Regions from separate parts of the Homo sapiens genome. Here region 1 is linked to region 2. Evidence: fine-mapped expression QTL. A gene starts in region 2. The other region holds a variant in brackets. All regions are shown on one strand. Distances are between the middles of the regions. Region 1 overlaps ARRDC3-AS1 (ARRDC3 antisense RNA 1). Region 2 holds the start of ARRDC3-AS1 (ARRDC3 antisense RNA 1).

The links. PIP is the estimated chance that this variant, and not a neighbour inherited with it, causes the effect.
Region 1: its variant is fine-mapped to the expression of ARRDC3-AS1 in whole blood (TOPMed, PIP 0.95).

Annotation. Positions count from the first base shown.
Region 1 is chr5:91,419,581-91,422,500 of GRCh38, reverse strand. It overlaps ARRDC3-AS1 (ARRDC3 antisense RNA 1), which reads right to left. Exons shown (of 3, transcript NR_027435.1): 3 at 1,786-2,920. Among named protein-coding and RNA genes, the nearest start is that of ARRDC3, 38 kb to the right of the region's middle. The variant C/A (reference allele first, on the strand shown) is at 1,696.
Region 2 is chr5:91,378,947-91,381,866 of GRCh38, reverse strand. ARRDC3-AS1 (ARRDC3 antisense RNA 1) reads right to left here and starts at 1,520. Exons shown (of 3, transcript NR_027435.1): 1 at 943-1,520. All of the region lies in intron 1 of ARRDC3 (arrestin domain containing 3), which reads left to right. RefSeq lists silencers at 789-858, 1,479-1,658.

The sequences.
Region 1 (2,920 bases), 41 kb before region 2:
AGACTGAGGAAAAGACAAGTTTGGGTCTATAATCTAAAATTTTACTGGTATATATTAGCTTGAGGTATGTACAAAAGCCCTAGTGGGAATGTCAAAAAGGCATGTAGGTATATGCATCTGGAGTTCAGAGGAGAGGTTTTGACTGAAGAAATACTTTGGGAGATTACTTAGCCTATAGGAATACTTTAGGGGAATCTTTAGCCTACAGGATTGCAGGTTCTGAGATTATCAGGGAAGAGTGCTACATTGTTCAATGAATATTTGCTGAATGAATAAATGAACAACTCATTTAAAATGTAAGTCATAAGAAAGAGAGACAAAATTTAAATCTTGACTGTGCCACTTGTAAGCTGTATGACCTTCTGTAAATCACTTAACAACAGTGAGCTCAATTTTCTCATCTGTGAAAAGGGAAACAATAATAACCAGCTCGCTTGGTTGGTTTTAGGATTAATGAAATTACAGTTATAAAGTGCTTAACAGTGAATGGCACACAACAGCCTCCAGTAGATGTTAACTTTCCTCCACTTGACTTCCACAATACCCAGTGCTGTAGGTGAAACTTCCTACTGCACCTTTACCAAGCAGCTCCTCTCCCCTTCTGCCTTTCTCCCTCCTTTCCTTTGCTTCCTTCCGTTACTGACTTGTGCGTGCTCTCTCTTTATCTTTCTGTGTGTGTGTGTGTGTGTGTGTGTGTGTGTGTGTGTGTGTGTGTGTATGTGTATGTGTCTTTCTGTTAAAACCCATTGAGTGCCTGCTACCTATATGTATAATGCTTCTCTTGGACACTGAAGATACAGCAGTGAACAAAAGTGTAGTAGCACAGAACACAAGCAATCTTGTGGTTTACATTACCCTAAAAATAGAATTAAACCAAAGACCCACTTAATCTAATTAACAATGATAAAAGTGAGTCACTACAAAAGAAAAAAAAATGACTTAAAAGCAGCCATAAAGAATGAAATCTTGTCCTTTGCAGCAACATGGATGGATCTGGAGGCCATTATCCTAAGAGAATGATCTCAGAAAACAGAAAACCAAATACCACATGTTCTGACTTATAAGTGAGAGCTAAACAATGGGTACACATGGACATAAAGATGGAAAGAATAGACACTGGGGACTCCAAAAGGAAGGAGGGTAGGACGGGAGCAAGGATTGAAAAAGTTACCTATCAGGTACAATGCTCACTATTTGGATAATGGGTACGCTAGAAGCCCAATCCCCACCACTACAAAACATGCGCATATAACAGACACATGTACCCCAGAATCTAAAATAAAATAATTTATTTTTTTAAATTGTCAGTAAAAAGAAGAGAAGCAAAGAAGTTTCCACTAGTTTCTAGAGAGGTAACTAAAAAATTCCACCAATATGAACTCTTCCCTCCCTTGGCATTTTGTTTACCCCATGCTGTGCCCCACCGAGTTGCTTCCTGGATTGTGAAAAGAAGCTCTAAGGAAAGAACGAGGAAGTATACAACTTAATGCAGAGCAACAATCACAGAAGCACTTTAATCAGGAGACACAGGAAACTTTTATCTTGAAAAGCTGAAAAGAAAAAGACTAAAAAAAGTGTTAATCCAGTTTTTCTGTCATAGCTTAATATGAGCAATTGCAATCATTCTGTTAAAATAAACGGCTTTCTCACAAAACTTGAGCATTTATGTCCTTAACCTCTTAGACACTTGTCCAG[C/A]AGTAAAGCTGGGACAACACTTCCCATTGGAAAGATGGTTGCGGAAATTCATTGAGGCCATCCACTGAAAGCATCTAGAACAGCCCTGGGTACAAAGCAGACAATTTTTTTTTATTATTATTATACTTTAAGTTCTAGGGTACATGTGTACAACGTGCAGGTTTGTTACATATGTATACATGTGTACACGTGTACAACAGCACATGTTGGTGTGCTGCACCCATTAACTCATCATTTACATTAGGTGTATCTCCTAATGCTATCCCTCCCACCTTCCCCCACCCCACGACAGGCCCCGGTGTGTGATGTTCCCCACCCTGTGTCCAAGTGTTCTCATTGTTCAATTCCCACCTATGAGTGAGAGCATGTAGTGTTTGGTTTTCTGTCCTTGCGATAGTTTTCTCAGAATGATGGTTTCCGGCTTCATCCATGTCCCTACAAAAGACATGAACTCATCCTTTTTTATGGCTGTATAGTATTCCATGGTGTATATGTGCCATATTTTCTTAATCCAGTCTATCATTGATGGACATTTGGGTTGGTTCCAAGTCTTTGCTATTGCAAAGCAGACAATTAACAATGTCACTACCAGCTCCTTCCCCTCTCCCTCTTGCATTTTTAAAATAAATTCTGATATTCACACACACACACGCACCCCTAGCTCAATCTTTTACAGAATTGTGAAAAAATAAATTTAGATTTTATTGAGCACGTCTAATTTCTTTTGGGGAAAGAGTCTTCTCTTGTATTAAGAAAAAGATAGCAGATTTATGTCTATAATGCTTTCATAAATAAATCAAATGCAAGTATAAAAGAACCTACTCAAGACTGAAATTCTGTCATATAACAATAGGTAACATAACAGAAATCTGTCTTTGATTTGTCTTCTCAAGTTCTGGAAATCAACATTTTAAATAATTTTATTTATTAATAGTGTTTATTGGAAAGTGCAGAGTAATTCACTTCTTAGTCATAAAAGAGAAGCTGAAAAGTTGATATTTGGCCACCAGATGGCGCCAAACCCCTAAATATTTTTGTGCCAGGCATTCAAAGCGCTCAAAAGTTAATTTAGAGCTAAAGGTTAGGCACTTGTTTATTGACTTTTATGCTTATATGTACAGCCATCTTGGAGAATCATAAAAAATAATTTCCCACAGATCACGACTCCTTTATGTGACCCTACCACATTCTTGCTTTGCTGTTGTCATTCTAATATATCTAGTTG
Region 2 (2,920 bases):
GGGTGGTGAGGAGGGGCGCTTGTTCTGCTCTCAGCAGATTGGTTACACGCGTCAGGTGGTGGCGATGACTTAATTCCTAGCCCAAGAAGAATATAATGTTAAAACTGGTTATGTAATTTTTGTGCCTCTCCTTTTTAATGCAGTATTTAGTTCAGATGTTGGCGATTTTTCAGAAAAAAAATTAGAGACATATTTTACCTTATTTTTTATATTAAAAACGTACATCCTGGAGAAGTGCTGATGACTAAGGCAAGTGAGAAATGAAGGATGCTTTGAGGGACAGTATTAATGCATTATTTTTGAAACTATTAAGGTGAACTCAGTTCTTTAGCAGGATTTTCGTAGTTAGATACAGGTACTTTGCATCCTGAAATAACTAATTAATCTCTCCAAGTGTTAACACTGATAGGAGATGCAAATGCCTAATGACAGCCTTGGTATTTGTTGAAAAGCAGATAGATGACTTTGTGTTTGTACCTTTCTGAATATTGCAGCCTTTTATGAAACGGATGAAAGAAAACAGATTTTTCCTCAAGGGGTTAAGACTTGCAGTGGGGAAAAGTAGAACAACGAGATGTGAGGACAAATATAATTTCATTAGTTGCACCATGATTTCGTGGTAAAGAAAACTAAATGCCCTGCACCCCCAACAAAATGCCCCCCAAACCCTGCAACGCGTAGACGAGCTCAGTCTGGAATAGTTTCAATGACTTGAAACTGGGAGCTCTCAAACTAGCCTGGTAACTGAGACCCCGCCCCGGGCGCCCGGGATAGGCGGAGCCAGGTTTGTTAGCCTGTTGCTAAGGCGATGGCAGGCGCTGATTGGATTGGGCGCGGGCGGGTGGGGAGAGTGAGCTCGCGCCGCGGCTGGGGCGAGGCTAGGAAACCGGCGTGCGCCGGTAAAGGTTCCTCCAGAGCGACCCCCACCCAGCCCGTACTCACGTTTGTTCCCGGGCTTCTGGGGGCGCCCAGCCCGTGTCAACATCATGTTCTGTCGCCCCTCTTTTGGGCCTCCTAAGGGCCATCGAAAGGAAACGACTTCAGGCTTTAACTGAGTAGAGGGCAGACGCTCCTGCCGGCCTTACAGGTGCTGGATGGCCATGGACCCAACTTTAGCAGAAAATCCTTTTCAGATGGAAGTTGGATGGGAAGGGTTGGCAGGACCCCCGTTAGCTATCTTCCGAGTGGGAGGTGTCAGGGGACTCCTGTGAACGCTTGTTTTCCCCTTAGCTGAAACAAAGCTTGTTCCCCGACCTCTCCAGTCGCCACACTGTCTACCTTGAGTTGACCTGAGGGGACAGAGCAAAGGCTGGCCCGAGGAAGAAGGAAAGTGATTCCAATATCGAAATGTTGGGGGAGGGGGGGGCTTCGACGGGTATCCTCTGCCCCCTCCCCCATCGTTTTCCGAAGCCTTCGGGCCCCCGCCTCCCCTTCGCCACCCCAATATCCCTTGCCGAAACTAAAGGTGTCAGAGTGGCCCGAGCCAGATGGAACCGGTCGCCGGCTGGGGCGTGTAAAGCGGAAGCGCCGCGGCTCGCTCGCCCCGCCCCCCGGCCAGCAGGCTAGGTTGCGCGGGCACGGGCGCGAGCGCCGCGCGACGTATGCCGTATGTATAGCGGGGCGCGCGGGCGGCAGCGGCGGCGGCGGCGGCGCGCGGGCAGGCCGGCTGGGATCTGCTCGCGCCGGTTTAGGCCGGTCCTCTCCTGCTCCGGTCTAGTTCTTGATTGACAGCCCGGCACTTGTTTACCACGGCGCGGCCGCCGCCGCTCGCTTCAATGAGACTGCTGAGCTGGCACAAAAAGGGAGCGAAGAGGGAAGAAAGGGAAAGGAAGGCGAACTTCGGGCGCCTTCGAGGGGAGCGAATTTAAATGGCCCCCAGCTCATCAGCTAGTTTTTGGTTCTGAAATCCGTTCAGGGGAATTTGCACAGGGGACGAGGAAAATTGTATGGAGACATAAGCGAATCACCATGATTTTTAAATGAAAGTATCGACGTATACATGCTTTTTTCCCCCTTTTTCTCGTTTAATATCAGGGAGGCATCACGTTTTTTGTGTATATCCAATACTTTGCTGAAGGAAAGTTAAATAATGTGCCAGTTTTTTCTACTCTGGGGGCTAATCGTAAAGGTTTCTACACCAAGAAAACTTTAAAAGATATTTCTGTAATTATTTAAAACGCTAAATAGGCACTTTAATGATCTAGAACCCCCTCCCATATTTTCGATTATATTTATTTTCATGCCACTTGAAAAAAAATAATTTCACCAAAAAAATTGGTTGTAAAATGAAAGGTCATCCCTTTTTTATAGAAACTGGAAACTATTAATAGTTAGACTTCATTTTTTTCAAGGATGTTGGAAAATATTGTTTCCTTATAAGCCGACACCACCTAAATGCGGTTCTTTGTAATTATCTAAGGTATAGTTTATGCAAGTTTTAGTCGTTGCTAGGACCAACTGAGTGTTGTGATCATTTTAGATCAATAAATAATTATTTTTAGTTCAATAAATAATTATTTTTAGTTATAAATCTGACATTAAAATCAATGTGTGGCTTTTTTTTTTTTTTTTTTTACTCCGTCTATTTGACAAGGTTTTCTAGTGGTTTTGGAGTATCTATTCTATTCACATCTGGTATTATTATTCCCTATAAACTGACATATTTTAAGAGGGTTGCATGAACAGTTTTTCTTTGATACATTATAGTCTTAATGTGATAAATTTAAGCAAACCGTTGGAGACAAAGGATAGCATTGTCTTACCATGATGTGAGACCCGAGCCTTTTGAGTATATATACTATTTTATAAACAGATGCTTTGCAGTTTGGGTCATTTTCCATTAGAAAAAATAAAAAGCCTGTGGGGTGTGAGTATTCATTATCCCCATTTTACAGATAAGGCAGCTGACGACAGGATTTTT